Regions from separate parts of the Homo sapiens genome. Here region 2 is linked to region 1. A link means that fine-mapping ties the variant in region 1 to the expression of a gene that starts in the linked region. Tissue or cell type: esophagus muscle. Region 1 holds a variant in brackets; the other region holds the start of a gene. All regions are shown on one strand. Distances are between the middles of the regions.

Region 1 (8,103 bases):
TCTCACAGCTGGAATGAGACTGAGCCAGCCCTAGCTCTTCTGTGTTGGAGTCACACAGACCTGGGTTTGAATCTGCCGCTAACTGGCTGTGTAAACATAGGCAGGCCACTTAGCCTCTCACCTCCTCAGTTTCCACCCTTGTAAAGTGGAATGCTAATGCTGCACCTTGAAGAGCTGTTATCAAGTCAGAGACGCTGTATATAAAGTGCCACGCTTGATGCTGAGTGGATAGTGGGCACTCAAACAAAAGCAGTGATTAGTGTTAGTACTTTCATTCTACAACCTCAGTCAAATGAGGGACCAGGCCCAGGGCCAGATCCTCAAAGTGGAATCCCGGTGACTCCCCAGGAAACCAGGGACTCAGGGCTGGAGTAACCTCCATAAACAAACATTTAGATGGTTTTTCCATCCTTGCATCCCAACATCCCACCCTCCCCCTCCAAAACACAAAACTCACCACCATATCCTTTCCTAAAGCGATCAGTTGGCCCATATTCTGTCTCTCTTCCTTCCTTCTTTCTTTCCTTCTTTTTTCCCTTTCTTCCCTCCTTCTTTCTTTTCTTTTTTTTCCCCTCCCTCCTTCCCTCCCTCTCTCCCTCCCTTCCTTCCTTCCTTCCTTCCTTCCTTGTTTCCTTCTTTCCTCCTCTCATTTATTTATTCAACAGCCATTGAGCACCTCCTGTGTCAAGCCTGTAGGACTCAAGAGGAGAGAGCTCATGCATGAACAGTGCCTAGCAGGGAAGAATTGGCACCGGGGAGAAGAACAGAGGAAGTTACAGGGGTTAGAGGAGGGGGATGTTTTCCAGCTGACAATGATGGGGGTATCAGAAAGGCTCTTGGTGAGATTGCACCATTGCACTCCAGCCTGGCAACAAGAGTGAAACTCCATCTCAAAAAAAAAAAAAAAAAAAAGAAAGGCTCTTGGATTAGGCTTTTAACATCAGGCAGGCGCAGGATGCAAGGCATAGAGAATGAGGTGATATAGGAAGCGGGTATGCCTATAGGACGAGGCATGGCGGAGGGAAGGGCTAGGTGGAGACAGGGATCAGAGGGCTGACTACAGAAAATGACCCATGATGGGGTGTATGCAGCTGGAAAAGGCTGTCAGGGCAGACTAAGGTCTGTTCCCAGAGGCCTTTGATCACCACAATATGGAATTAAAATGTGAGTGTGTATGTCTCAAGATATGTCAACTTTGGCTATGCATTAGAACCCTGTAAGAGTCTTAAAAAACAAAACTAGGGTCCAACACTAGACATATCAAGGTGGAATCTCTGGTCAGAGATCCATTCATGGAGCTCCCAAGGTGATTCTAAGGTTGGAAATTATTGCTGTTGGCAATGGGAATCTTTAGGGCATGATCAGAGTTTCAGAGTTGGGCTGGGAAGATGGAGCCTACAGGTGTGTGGGTCCAGTTACTAGACAGAGGAGCCAAGGCCGCAGCAAGCACTCACGACCAAGATGTGGCCTGCAGCAGGGGAGATGCTGACAGTCCGGACTTGATGGCTGATGGGACGGGAAGGGGCAGGGTGCCTGGGATGGGGCGTGGAGGCTGGGGGATCTTGAGAGTGCTGAAGGTCAATGAGAAGTGGGTCTGGGCAGTGCAGGATGGTCAGGTGTTCTGTCATCGCTAGTATGACTCGGCCCCACCCGGTGGAGAGAGGTCTCAGGGCCCACTGGAGGCAGCTCCTACCCATGACCCCTGCCTCTGCGTTGGCATTCAGTAGCCCTTGATTTATCCCAATGCAAGAAACAAATTTTCAATAACTGGTAACATTCTCCGGGAGTGATATGGGCCAGAGCAGGCTGGTTTTCAGGCTGCCTCCCTGGTCCTGAGATTGCCAGCTCAGAGGAGCATCCCCTGAATGAACTGTCAGCAGGATGTGAAGGAAGGACATGCTGGAGCCACTGCTGTCCTCTCCCCTGCCGCCCAGGCTTGACCAGGTGTGGTGCTGATAGCAGGCTGCAGGAGCTGGGAGGAAGCAGTGGAAATGCCCTTCGTGTTTTTGCCAAGCAGCTGGGTTGTGGGCTAGCTGCTCCTTCCGCCTATGTCCATCATAGGGGTTCAAGTGGCTGGGGCTCCAGGCTAGCTGGGTGTCCTCTGGAATCACTGTGAAGGGCCAAGAAGACTCTCATCCCACCCTCCAACTCTGAAGGTAGGGGCCATAGTCTGCCCTCAGCTTTTCCTGTGAGTCTTAGCCTGGAGCAGGTGAGTTCTAAATTCCCTCCCATTGTCTGTCCTGGGGACCTTACACTGCAGGGCTTGGGAAAAAGCTGGTTGGTTTCAGATCATTCAGATAACTCAGGCTTAGCTGGACCCAGGACAGGAGAGAAAGGATGCATTCAGGCCCCGGCTTCTGGGTTTGGCCATGAAGAGTGAATTCCTGCCCAGTGTCTTGCCAAACAGGCCCAGCATAAAAGATCCAGAGGAACCCTGAGCAGGCAGAGGATACACTAGGCCCAGGATGGACAGAAGCCTCTACTTCAGAGCTCATCCATAGACCTCTTTTTAAGAAGGTAAAGAAGGAGCTGTTGTTGCAATTTCATAGATAAGTCAAAACATATTATTATTAATAATAGCATCTTCCACTTTTTTGAGTTCTTATCGTGTGCTGGGCTTCTGTGCTCAGTGCTTTACATGCATCATCTCATTTAATCCCCATGACAGTTCTCCTAGGCAGGTAGCCTCACAAACCCATTTTACAAGGCCCAGTGAGGTTGTGGCAGTTGCCAAGGTCACACAGCTCAGAACTCAGGCCTGTCTGACTCCATAGCCACACTGCTATTTAAGGAGCTAGGTTAGCCAAGGTCACAGTCAGAGGCATTGGAGAGACTCAGGCCAGGCCCCCTCACCGTCAGCTCAGGATGCTGGATTATATGCTACTGAGGACCTGGCAGTGTCCAACAGCTCTGAATGCCAGATTCCTGAGGAGCCAGCGTCTCCCCAGCCTCAGCTACTCCCTGGCTGGCTGGGGCCCTAGATCTGAGTGCAGCATCTGCATTTCCCAGGCTGTGAGAACTACAGTGCAACCCTCCTCTGTGTTGCTGGAGTGAATGCCCTCAGGGCAGGCAGCTTCCAGGGTGGCACCTCATATAAATCCAGGGAGTGGCCGAGGCCTGCAAGGAATCTGGCTCAACACCTGCCATTTGGGTCTCAGTTTTACACATTTTGATCTTGCACATGATTTCACTAGGGCAAAATTAAGTGCATGAAGGAATCACACATTCCTGGGTCTCGCCCTCAGTGATGCAGAGTGGGTAGGGACCTGGGCTATGGGGGCCCTGTAGGTATTCTGCTGCAGATGGGGGCACCACACTTGCAGCTCAGAACAGAGATAAAACCAGATAAAACTCCGCTTTATGACTGCTTTGCATCACTTTCCAGCTGGCCTCATCTGAACAGGGCAGAAAGTTCCTAATAACAATAATCAACGTCAGAATTAAATGTGTGTCATGCTCTGCTGGCACAAAACTCTTTTCAATGCATTCTTTCTTTCCTTTGGATCCCAGTGTCAAATACCCGCTTGCCAACATAGTTTGTTTGCTGTACACAGGTTGAAACTGCAAAGGTTTTCAATTTTAAATTTAGCTAATATTTTACTTTTTTTTTTTTTTTGAAATGGGATCTCGCTTTGTTGCCTTACCTGGAGTGTAGTTGCGAGATCATAGCTCACTGCAGCCTCCAACTCCTGGGCTCAGGTGATCCTCCCACCTCAGTCTCCTGTGTAGCTGGGACTACAGGTACACCACCATGCCCACCTGGATAATTTTTAACTTTTTTTGTAGAGATAAAGTCTTGCTATGTTGCCTAGGCTAGTCTCGAACTCCTGGGCTCAAGGGATCCTTCCCCTTCGGCTTCCCAAAGTGTTAGGATTACAGGTGTGATCTGGTTTCTAACTTCTCTTAAAGTGTTGGAGGTCTGGCTATTATAGATCTTCTGGATGGCCTGACATCCATTGCCTGGAGGGAGTGGTGACTGCCTGTCTGGAGGCAGCTGGCTCTCTCCCTATTGACAGGCCCTGCCACACCCTGGCAATTCTTCCTGGCACCAAGGCAAGAGTCAGTGGGCACCTGTCATCTCATTGCTTTGCCTGCTTCACCCTCTGACAATACCTTCATGAGCCCTGTAGGCAATTGAGCACATGATCTCGATTTCAAATACACAGCCCACTTGGCCTGTGTCCCTCCCTGGTTTCCTTAGATAGCTCTGTGTGAAGTCCTTCTTTCATAATATCCTTTGAAACCGATATTCACCCATTTAAGTGATGAAGCTTCAGGGCTCAGAAAGAGTGAGAAATTTGCCAAAAATTCTACAGCCAATCCAAGCAGAGCCAGGACTCCAAGGTAGGACCTGCGCCCAGGTGTGTAGCCTGTACCCCGAGCAGCTCCAGCACCGCCATCCACACACAAGACACAAATGAGAGCGTGCTCTCCAGACCTGTACAGCGCATGGCCTGCCAAGCTTTAGACCAAAGCCCCGACTCCAATCCAGGGGCCCGACTACAAAGCTGGTATTTTTCTTTACTCCATATCAAGCCCTTGGCTAAGAAATGGGGATTTCCAAGCCCAC[A/G]GCTGCTCTTGTTTCTCCCCACAGTGCTCCTACATCCCAGGCAGCGTGGACAATTACCAGACGGCCCGGGCCGACGTGGAGAAGGTCAGAGCCAAATTCCAAGAGCAGCAGGTCTTCTACTGCTTCTCCGCACCTCGGGGGAACGAAACCAGCGTCCTATTCCAGCGCCTCTACGGGCCCCAGGCCCTCCTCTTCTCCCTCTTCTGGCCCACCTTCCTGCTGACCGGTGGCCTCCTCATTATCGCCATGGTGAAGAGCAACCAGTACCTGTCCATCCTGGCGGCCCAGAAGTAGAGCCATCCATCCATGCCATACCACTTGTCAGGGCACAGGGGACTGGCTGGGCCCCCAGGGCTGCTCCCCACTTGCAGCACAATGCCTTCTCCACCTGCCCTCCCACTCTTCCAGTCCAATCCACGCTGTCTTCTGTTGCAGGACTAACCTTTGAGAAATCCTTTTGTGAAGTCATTGCCTGCTCAAGAATGTACAGTGGCTCCCCAATGCCTTGGAGGCCATAAGGCCAGCCAGTTCTAGCTCTCTATTACCTGTCCCCACTCAACTGACTCATACCTGTTTCCGGCTGCATCACTATGTGCCCCACAGAGAACGATGATCGTCACCTCTGTGCCTGAGTTCTCCCTGTTGTCTCAAAGCGGTACCCATCCTCCCCCAGAAGCTGTCCCCAGCGAGCCTCCCTTCTTTGTTTGAATTCTCTAATAAGAGCAACAGCAGCTCCCATTTCTAGAACACATTTACAGTATTACTATTTTCTAGGATATAAAGTGCCATATATATTTTTAATTCCAATATTAATAAATGTATGCCAAACAACAATCAGCTGCAAGGAAACACATGAGAACTCATCAAAATTTTAGCGGTGGGATGGTGGTTAATTTCTGTTTTCTTCCTTATCCCCTTTTTATTTTTGCTGCTTTTCTAAATTTTTGATTATAGGAAGGGTGTGTTTCGTTTGCTTTTAATCAGAAAAGCCATGGTAGATGCCATTTTGGAAAAGTTGAAAGAGTGTGTCCCCCTCACAGAAAAAGATGGAAGTGGGTCTGGGGACGGAGTTGGGTTCCAGTCAGAGACAGGCCATTCAGAACACACAATCTTAAAAACCCCTCTGGGCCGGGCGCGGTGGCTCACTCCTGTAATCCCAGCACTTTGGGAGGCCGAGGCTGGTGGATCACGAGGTCAGGAGATCAAGACCATCCTGGCTAACATGGTGAAACCCCGTCTCTACTAAAAATACAAAAAATTAGCCAGGCGTGGTGGTGGGCACCTGTGGTCCCAGCTACTCAGGAGGCTGAGGCAGGAGAATGGCGTGAACCCGGGGTTCGGAGCTTGCAGTGAGCCGAGATTGTGCCACTGCACTCCAGCCTGGTGATAGAACAAGACTCCGTCTCAAAAAAAAAACAAAAAACAAAAAATGAAAAACAACCCTCTGGAGGAAAGGTCATGATATAGAGGAGGATTTGTTATTTAAATTGAGGGTATGGACTCTGGCACTGAGCCTGCTGGGGAAGCCTATCTCAGATTTGAAAAGGGCAAAATGGGAAGAAGCCATCACCTTTACCATTCCCACTCCAGGAAGTTTTCCTAGAACGATGACTGTCCAAGTGTGGTCCCTGGGCCAGCAGCATCAGGATCCTGTGGCAGCTTGTGAGAAATGCACACTCTCAGGCCCCTGTCCCAGCCCCACCACGCCAGAAGCCCTGCACGGGGTGGGGGTAGCAATGTTCTGTGTTCTAACAATGCGTAGGGGATTCTGTGGCACACCTCGAGCCAGAGAACTACCGGTGTAGGAAGTGAGCGTCCTGTCGCGAGGATTTTCAGAGCAGGTGAGTGACCATTCGGCAGGGCCAGTCCTGAGCTGGGTGTGAAGTTAGGCTGGTGTCTGAAGTTTCTTCCAGTGTTGTGAGTCCAAGATGCAGATCTTGGGTTTGAATCCTGTCTCTACTCTGCCCGATTTCATCTCTTTGATTCTTAGTTTTTTCATCTATAAAAGAAGGACTCTTTCTGGATAGTTGGGAGGGCTGAAGGAATGTTTGACACATCATAGGTGTTTAAAATGGCAACTATAGTTTTTTTTGTTTGTTTTGTGTGTGTGTTTTTTTCTTAACTTTCATTTTAAGTTGCAGGGTACACGTTCAGGTTTGTTACATAGGTACACTTGTGTCAAGGGAGTTTGTTGTGCAGATTATTTCATCACCCAGGTATTAAGTCTAGTACCCATTATTAAAGAAAATGTGGTACGTATACGTCATGGAATATTATGCAGCCATAAAAAGGAAGGAGATCATGTCCTTTGCAGGGACATGGATGGAGCTGGAGGCCAAATATTATCCTTAGCAAACTAACACAGGGACACAAAACTAAATACTGTATATTCTCACTTATAAGTGGGAGCTAAATGATGAAAACACATGGACACAAAGAGGGGAACAACACACACTGAGGCCTATTGGAGGGCGGGAGGTAGGAGGAGGGAGAGGATCAGGGAAAAAGAGCTATTGTTAGTAACAAGAAAAAGTCGGCCGGGCGTGGTGGCTCACACCTGTAATCCCAGCACTTTGGGAGGCCGAGGTGGGCAGATCACGAGGTCAGGAGATCGAGACCATCCTGGCTAACACGGTGAAACCCTGTCTCTACTAAAAAATAGAAAAAATCATAGCCGGGCGTGGTGGTAGCCGCCTGTAGTCCCAGCTGCTCAGGAGGCTGAGGCAGAAGAATGGCGTGAACCCGGGAGGCGGAGCTTGCAGTGAGCCGAGATCGCGCCACGGCACTCCAGCCTGGGTAACAGAGCAAGACTCTGTCTCAAAAAAAAAAAAAAAAAAAAAAAAAAAAGAATAAGTCATGAATACTCAGAAACTTCCAGAAGTTATACTGACAATGTTATCTGGCATGTATGGGTGCTTATTTATTCTGTGCCAGGCACTGTACTAATTAGTTTGCCTTGGAAAAAAAAATGAGATACTCCTGAACCTGCCTCACAGATGATGAGAAGCAACAGAGGACAGTGGCTAAGTATGTGGACTTGGGATGTGCACTGTTTGGGTTCAAATTCCAGCTGTGCTGTTCACAAGCTGGGTGACTTTGGACGAATAACCTTTCTGTGCCTGTTTCCTCGTTTGCAAAACGAAACTGATAATAGTATCTTTCCATAGAGTTTTGGCATGAAACAAATTTTTATGTAAATTTCCTAGGATAGTGACATATGGTAAGTGCTATCTAAGTTACTATGAAAAACTGAGGCTGTAAGAGGTAACTGGCCAAGGCCATCTGTAAAGTGAGGGGCTAGGACTCAAGCCTGGAGCTGTGTGTTCCAGTACCTGGCATCTCAACCACAGAACTCAGCAGAGCCAGCTGTGAAGGGCTGAGGGACAGAGCCAGCTGTGAAGGGCTGAGGGGCAGAGCCAGCTGTGAAGGGCTGAGGGGCAGAGCCAGCTGTGAAGGGCTGAGGGACACAGCCACTCAAAGCCACAGGGGCCAGGCAGGGAGCTGCGTTGCATCCCTGGAACCCAGGTGCCCTC
Region 2 (8,103 bases), 48 kb after region 1:
TTTCTTTCTTTTTCCTTTTCCTTTCAATATTTGCTCTCTCTCCTCTCCACTCTCTCTTTGTCTCTAACTCTCTCTCTTTGTCTCTCTCTAACTCTCTGTCTTGCTCTTCTTCCCTCTTTCTCTTTGTCTTCTGTCTCTGTTTTCTGGCTTAGGAATATCTTAGTAAATTAATACCTAGAATCTGGAGGAGCTATAGACCTCTCCTTTCTGCCTCCCCTCTGAAACTTTCCACTCTGAGCTTAGCGGCCGCCTGAGCCCAACCCCGGCTCAGCACCTCTATGAGTGCAGCACTGTTATATATCACTGTAATTTTCTCCGGCCTCAGAAACACACAGCTAAGCCTCTCTCCTCATGGTCCTAAATGTAAATGAACACTGTCCCTAGCTGGGAAGGCCAGAATCATAAATTGGCTGTGTTTCTGCAAAGCAAAACTTTTTAACCAGAAAGATGTACACTCTTTATCTTCTCGGCTGGAGGCATAGAGAGATTTAAAAAGAAAAAAAAAAAGAGAACAGAGGACCCACTGGGAAAGTGGGGATGAGGGGAGAGAGAGAATAAGCAGAAGGCAGGAGAGACAGAGGGTGATTGAAGGAAAAGAGGGGCTGCAGAGAGGCTCACAAGAGCCATAGCCATCTCTCTCATGCCATAGGTAAAAAATTTAACATTAGATTTTTCATTTCACAGACAGATAAACTGAGGATGCTAGGAGCTCAGCAGCAATACGAGAAGGCAGGGTATTATCTAAAATTAAGAACAGTGCAGCCAGGGTGGGAAGAGAGGGAGCTTTGGAGCTCCGTAAGCTCCAGGAACTGAAAAACCACAGTCTGCCTCATCTTTCTCCCTGTCCGCGGAACTGAACTAGCCTCCAAAGCCAAACGGGTTGTTCTGCTGACTTAGCTTTGCATGGCGAATGCATTTGAAGCTTCTGTAGGTTTCCAGAAAAATTGTGCATTTCCTAGGGAGTAAACACCATAGCTTGATTCATATTATCAGTTTTGGGGTCCATCTACCCCATAAACCACACATGACTCCACTTTGCTGAAATAGGAAAGATGGTGCAGTGATGCAGTAATATTAGCAAGAAACAGCCAGATAGGATCTAAATGGGGCAAGGGTGTTGATTTGAGGTTCAGGAGAAGCCTTGTGCCATTTTCCCAACCTCACCATATAAAGCATGGGTGAGGGCCAAAGATAAAAGCTGCTTCCGCCCAGAGCACATTCCCAGGGATCTCCTGGTACAGTCCACAGTACTGATGATCAAAGCAGTAACAGCAGGGTCTTTGCACCACCTAGGCCAACTGAGGGTTCATAAGCTAAGCAGGCGTTCAGCTTTGTTACCCTTGGAGAAATGCTGCATTTTCACTAAAGAGCATTTCCTGTTGCAGAGAGGAGAGCTCGGCCCCCTGCCGGGATAATCACAATAAAGTCTCCGTTGATAAAATGGCCAAGGGGCAGTGTCTCAGGTTTCTCTGGTTTGCAGGTTATGGAGCTCACTTGTGAGCTCCAATCCTTGTGAGTGGAAGCATCTTTCTGAGACGCTGCACCCTCTGCTTTCCACTGTACATTCATGGTGCTGGGCTTGGGGAAGCCAGGGACCAGGACTATGGACTGAGTGCTTCCCACACCCATCACCCCAGGACACATGCTGGAAGATGTTCTCTTTTCTAATAAACCATCTACTAAGAATATCCGTTAGTCATGTTCTCTTTTCTCCTGAAAGTCAGGCGTGGGTGTCTGCCTAATGTCCGGGTCCAGTACAGTGTCTTCTGTGTGCTGAAAGACAGTCGGAGTTTCTCTTCTTCCTGTGGTTTTGTGGGCAGTGTCGTTTTGTGCCAACCTGCTGTCTGGGACTGATGAGCGCTCACCCAGCCACCCTGAGACTTGGTGGTGGACAGATGCACCCTGCTTCCTGAGATAGGTGCTGGGACCCACAGGGTGTTGAACAGATCCCTCTGGTCATGAAAATGGCCCTCTGGCAGCCTCTCAGTGACCTGTGTAAACCAAAAATAAAATTCTAAGTCCCCCAACCATCTGAATGGACCCCTCGCCTCGGCCAATAGCCTTCCAAAGTTAACCTGAAAAACTAGTGCAAACCGTGGTGGGAAGGGAGGGTCGAACGTGCCTCATTATTTCCTGCTCCCTTTTGGAACTCAGGCACAACTGACCAGCATTAACATTAAAACAGACCTTAGGATTGACAAAGCTGATTCTTTGTAGCAATAAGACACCAAATTCCAGCCTGGCTGTAGTATAGCATCACATGACAGAGAGCAGGCCCTGAAAAAAAAAAATCAAAGTATTTTGCCCCAAGTTATGTTTATTTGCTGTATCTCAAAATAGTCCTGCAAAGCTGTCTCTTGTGGGGAAAATCTATATTTCGAAGAGAATCCCCTTCCTTTTCGTGCTCCAGGAGAGAATTAATTCTGATAAGAAACATTTACAACCTATTCTCTCTGAAGCCTGCTACCTGGGGCTTCCTCTGCATAATGGGAACCCTGGTCTCCACAACCTCTCATCTTAACCCAGACATTCTCTTCTGTTGATTCTAGGTCTTTAGATGATAATACAACTTTTTCAACCAATTGTCAATCAGAAAATCTTTGAATGTATCTATGACTTGAAGCCTCTGCTTTGAGTTGTCCTGCCTTCCCGGACCAAACCAACGTACATTTTCTATGTATTGATTTATTTCTTGTATCTCCCTAATATATATAAAACCAAACTGTAACCTGACCACCTTGGGCAGGATCTCCTGAGGTCTGTGTCACGGGCTATTGGTCACTCATATTTGGCTCAGAATAAATCTCCAAGTATTTTATAGAGTTTGACTGTTTTTGTAGACACCTGGGACAGGAACTCTTGGCAGAGCAGACCCCTGGAGGCAGCACCCCTGCTGCTGTGCCTGCTTTCAAAACCCCATGGCTCGTCCTTCGTCCCCTCCTCTCTGTCTCTCTGTGACTTGAAGAAGGATGAAAGGCGGCCTGCAGGTGGACCACAAAAGTGGGAAGCATCATTCCCACCCAAGAAAGGAAAGAGAACAGAAGACGCCTGATCAGAGCCTTCCTGAGGTCTCATCTCCCCTATCTCCGGGGAGCTGAGAACCACCCCCAAGGATTTGGTGGGTCCCCTCCCCAACAGGCCCCTCCACCTCTGGTGAAAGAGCTCTGCCCACTTCTCTGCTTAGTCTGAGCTGATAGGAGGGAAAAGGAGAGCACTGTATGAGTCACAGGTCTCATTACCTCCCCTCATAGCCCAGGGGAAGGGGAGATGGCAGAGGCGGGTAGCAGGCAGGGCTGGGGATGTGCCATGGGGTTCCCCTGGCTTCTCCCCACAGAGGCTGAACCTCCTGGGGGAACATTTGAAAGCCTCAGAGACCAGCTATGGTGCCAAATACTAATGGCCTCAGTTTCCCTTCCTATCCCCCACCTTTGCACGAGTGTGAGTACTCACCCCCCGTCAACTATGTGACCTTGGGAAGACCCCTCTGAAAGACCTCACACCATTCATGTTAGTCCTCCTTCCCCACCTCCCCACACCATCCACACACCACATGCATCAAGCCCCACCGACTTCAGTCCTCAGCATCCTCGCCCCTCAAGAGGGCTGAGAAAAGGAACCATGCTCTTCACGAGCCACCATACAGACGTGGGAATTCCCCTGAAGGTCAGAACCACAGCTCCTTCTCAGCAACTCCTTCTGGCCCCAGGAGTGGGAGGTCTCATGGTCCCAAACAAAACGGAATTGCCTGTGACTCATACCCAGCCCTGCCTATTGAGAAATCTACTTCCGGTGTTGGGGGTGTGGGGTGGTGCGGAACTGGAGCCAGGAAGGGGTGTGTTTGTGTGTGTGTGTGTGTGTGTGTGTGTGTGTGTGTGTGTTCCTCAGCTTCCTGGCTACTGAGTCTTCTCAAGACCAGAGCTCCCTGGCTTTTCAGAAAACCAGCTCTCAAATCATCTAGATCATCTATCCCCCTTACTAGGTAGTCCAGTGTGGCCCAAAGCCTATTTGGACTTTTTTTTTCTTAAAGGAGAAGAAAAAAAGAACCAAGTGAAAACAGAAAATAATTCAGCCACGTGAAGCTGAATTATTATAGCTGCCCCATGTGAGTCGGGAAAGAGAAGGGTGCTTCCTAAAACATGTTAGACAAGGCACTCTGCGGCTTAGTCCCATCCTCCACGCCCCGAAGTCTGCAGCTCTCTCATCATCTTTGCTGCTTGAGTTTTGAGAGGGGCCCAGTGTGCCTTCTGCAAAGCCTGTGCCACTTGCTTCGAAATGTGGCTGTCTCTGGAGGGTTCTCACGAGTCCCACGCTGGATCCTGAGGGCACAGAACTGAAGCTGTTTCAGTTTTTGGTTTGCATGTTGTTGTTACTGTCGCAAAAGGGAAATATCAACTTGGATATTAACAAAATGGAGAACTGAGACCCACCCTGCGATTTTTGCCATTTTCTCATTTTGGTAGAACAAGAGCAAAGAACAAAGGCGCCTTCTAATGGCATAACCTAACTTTTAAGGTAACAGCATCATTATATGTTTAAAGCAAGAAAAGAAGAGGAAATAATGTTTGTCAAAATCTATCATGTGTCAGACATTTTACCGAACTTTCTCCCCTAAGCCCAATGACATAGGTACTTGTGTCCCCATTCCATGATGGGGAAATGGGGGCTAAGAAAGGTGCGGTGACTTGGTTAAGGTCATACGTGTAGAGATGAATGCTAGAGAAAGGATTCAAAATCAGGTCTGGCTGTTGCTGAGTTTCCTGTATTTTCCAAGTTCTTACACTTTCCCTAACTTCCCTGCCTTCATCTCTGTCCTCTCCTCTGCTTACTCTGTTCTTTTCTGTTCCTCAAACACACAAAGCTCATTCCCACATCAGGACTTTCTGTCTCTCTTTGTTTGGCTGCTTCCTTTCTTATCATTTGGGACTCATCACAAAGGCCACCTTCTTGTAAGGTGACCTGACCATTCCTTTTAAAGTAGTACCCTCTGGGATATTGCTCTGTTAATTTACTTTACAGTACTTCTCACTCACCTACTTTGTTTATTTCCGTAGTCTGTGACCCCCTACCCACCCCTCACTGACCCTGCAACAGACACTAGAATGTAGGGCTAGTGAGAGCAGAGGCCTCTTCTTTCTTGTTCTTCTCTATATCCAAAGAGTCTGGAGAAATGGCTGGGACATTGAGGACATTCAGAAATATTTGTTGGATGGATAGGTGGGTGGGTAGATGGATGGATAAACAGGTGGGTGAGTAGACGGATGAGTGAGTGGGTAGATGGACAGGTGGATGGGTAGATGGATGAGTAGATGGATGGATGGACGGATGGGTAGGTAAATGAATAAAATGGTAGATGGATGGACAGGTGGGTGGGTAGATGGATGAGTAGATGGTTAAATGGACAAGTGGGTAGGTAGATGGATGAAAGAGTAGATGGATGGTTGGATGGGTGAGTAGGTAGATGGATTAGTGAGTAGATAGATGAATGGATGGATGGGTAGATGGATGGATGGATGAAGATGAATGAGTTGGTGAATGTACGTATGTATGAATGTATGGTGTCTACTATATGGCAGGTTCCAGTGAGGATGTAGAGATGAATAAAATGATGTCTCTTTGATCCAAATGTTTGCTTTGAAATGAGGGAGACCTTCTCAATAGTCAAGTAGTTGCATCAAAGTATATTAGGTGTTCTGAGGGAATATCAGATCTCAAAAGCACATTTGGGATAGAAATGAGGAAGGGATCCATTTTTGCTGCTGGAGGGTGATCAGAAAATGCTCTATATGGGAGATAACACTGTATCTGATCCACGAAGGATAAGTGGTTATTATTCAGGTAATCAATGAATTTAAAAGCTTCCCTGCAGCCTAGGAAAAGGGAAAGAAGCTGAACACAGTCTTAGAGTCTAAAAACTGCAAGCTATTTGGTGTGATGGGACAAGAGGTGTGAAAGATCTGGTCTTGATTGCTACTGCATATTCAGTGTTTAGCATTCAATTACCCTACTATTGGCACTTCATAATAGTACTCAAGAATAGGTCCTCAATAATTATTTGTTGAAGAAAGGAACAAAAGGAGAGCACAGGGAAAAGTAAAGCTGGCAAGATTGACCTGTGCTGGGTACTGCTGGGCTAAGGAATGTAGATGCTAGTCAGAGGAAAATGGACCATCACAGAAGGGTTGATGAGATGCATGTTTCTGATGGTCACCCTGCTAAGCACAGGAACTGTGTTGGGGAAAGTCCAGGAAGTGGCAGGAATAGACAGAGTGGACTATGGCTATGGTCCGAGTGTGGGATGTTGAGGACCTGAGCTAATCAGGATAGTGTACGTGAAAAGGTAAAGAGGGATTCTAGAGACTTGAGGAAGGTAGAACTAGAGTGCTATCCATGGTTCCATATGGATGAAGAAGGGAAGAGGGAGGGAATATAAAGAGAAGAATTTTCCATGCCCCTGCTGGAATGACTAGATGCTAGCCACTGGAATACAAAATGTATGGGGTGGGGTTCACCATGAAGCTAATGAAGGTTATGTGCGAGAATCCCTCCCTTTCACATCCACTATCAAGGTCCTAAACCTACTCTTGTATTCATTGTTTTCTTTTTATTTATTTTTTCCTAAAGAGCCCCTTCCTGGCCAATTATAGAATCCTCAGGCTCCACCAAGCCTGGATCTTCCCCTGGAAATACAAGGAGAACAGTTTGGGGGAAAGGATTCCATTTGGATTGTGAATTCCATTTGGGGCATGGTAGGTTAGAGGTGGATGAAAAACCTTGAGGTGGAGATGTTCTGCAAGGAGCACAGTGTGGGACAGGGCTTGAATCCTGGCTTCATGCTGTGTGGACATGGGCAAGTTGTTTGAGCTCTGTGCTCAGTAAAATGGGATGTTAATGATAGTACACCCTGATAGGGTTGTAAAGATTAGATGAGACAACATAGGTCAAATGCTTAGAACAGTGCCTAGCACATAGTGAGTGTTGAAAACAAGTTGCGTGTTGGCTTTTGGTATTCTGTGGGGCAGTGTATATCTGAGAGTCACTGGAGTTGAGGGTGGCCTTGGGGGGAGTTGGATTGTGTAGCAAGAGTGTATTAGGGCTTGATATGAGGAAGACCAAGGACAGAGCTCTGATATTTATCAGGGTGAGCAGAGGAAGAGGAACCAGCAAAGGAGGCTGACGAGGACTAGCCAAAGGGGTCCTGGAAGCCAGGGGAGGGGAGAATACCAAGCAGACACTCAGTCATGGGTGTCACCTGCTGCTAAAAGTCTAGCAAGAAGGTGACCACAAGAGGCTGCTGGCATGGGTTTTGGGGACATCTCAGTGACCTTGTCAGAGGGCTCTCGGTGGAGAGTTGGGTACTGAGGAATGAAAGTCCCATGCAGACGACAGGTGTAGATGGTCTTCTGCAGAACCTTGGCTTTGGGAAAAGACAGGAGGCAAGAGGCAGAGGAGAACAGAGGCAGAGAGAAGGTGTTAGGGTGGTTGATTTGTTTTGCTTTGGGAGGACATGATTCACTGTTTAAAGATGAGATTCACAGGCTTTGGGGGCTGTGATGAAGAGTTGGTGTGTAAAGTTTAACAATTTGAGGAAGAAATAAAATAATTGATTAAAAAAAAAGTGAATGCCTTGAAAGAATTAGGAAGGGGAGGAACAAGTGACACAATAAGTGGCCAACCCTGAACTGCTCTCTGAGTCTCGAAGGAAGGGGGCAAGGGTGGGAAGGTTATAAATAAGCTTCTAGGTAGGAGGACAGGAAATGGGGCAGTTATGCCTGATAGCCTCAGGTTTGTTGCTGTGAAGTAGGAGGATAGATCATCTGCAGAAACATAAATACACAGCTTCTCCCACACCGTGGGCACTTAGGACAAATTATGATTACGAAACTTAAAATCTCAAGGGAATATTAGGGTTAGAGGAACCCGAGTTGATGGTAAAGTTATTAATATCCCTACAAATTGTTTTACTTCGATTAATATAAAGCAGTGAACAAAGCATACCGAGTAAAAACAACCTCAGAGGCAATTTGCACATCTTTGTTAGTGCTCTACCGTTAATTTTAATTTGCAAACCTTTGTTTGCTTGTAGGTGCTTGAAGCATTTCAGGA

What was found. PIP is the estimated chance that this variant, and not a neighbour inherited with it, causes the effect.
Region 2: LINC01366 starts here. The variant in region 1 is fine-mapped to the expression of LINC01366 in esophagus muscle (GTEx, PIP above 0.99). The same link has a PIP of 0.9 or more in gastroesophageal junction, sigmoid colon and tibial artery.

Annotation. Positions count from the first base shown.
Region 1 is chr5:170,375,465-170,383,567 of GRCh38, reverse strand. It overlaps KCNMB1 (potassium calcium-activated channel subfamily M regulatory beta subunit 1), which reads left to right. Exons shown (of 4, transcript NM_004137.4): 4 at 4,595-8,103. The coding sequence ends at 4,864. It also overlaps a transcript of KCNIP1 not described here. Among named protein-coding and RNA genes, the nearest start is that of KCNMB1, 9.9 kb to the left of the region's middle. The variant A/G (reference allele first, on the strand shown) is at 4,571.
Region 2 is chr5:170,327,022-170,335,124 of GRCh38, reverse strand. It overlaps LINC01366 (long intergenic non-protein coding RNA 1366), which reads right to left and starts at 3,732. Exons shown (of 2, transcript NR_108025.1): 1 at 3,548-3,732; 2 at 25-1,991. RefSeq lists enhancers at 733-1,580, 1,615-1,664, 1,581-2,430, 3,496-3,665, 3,230-4,429 and 1 more.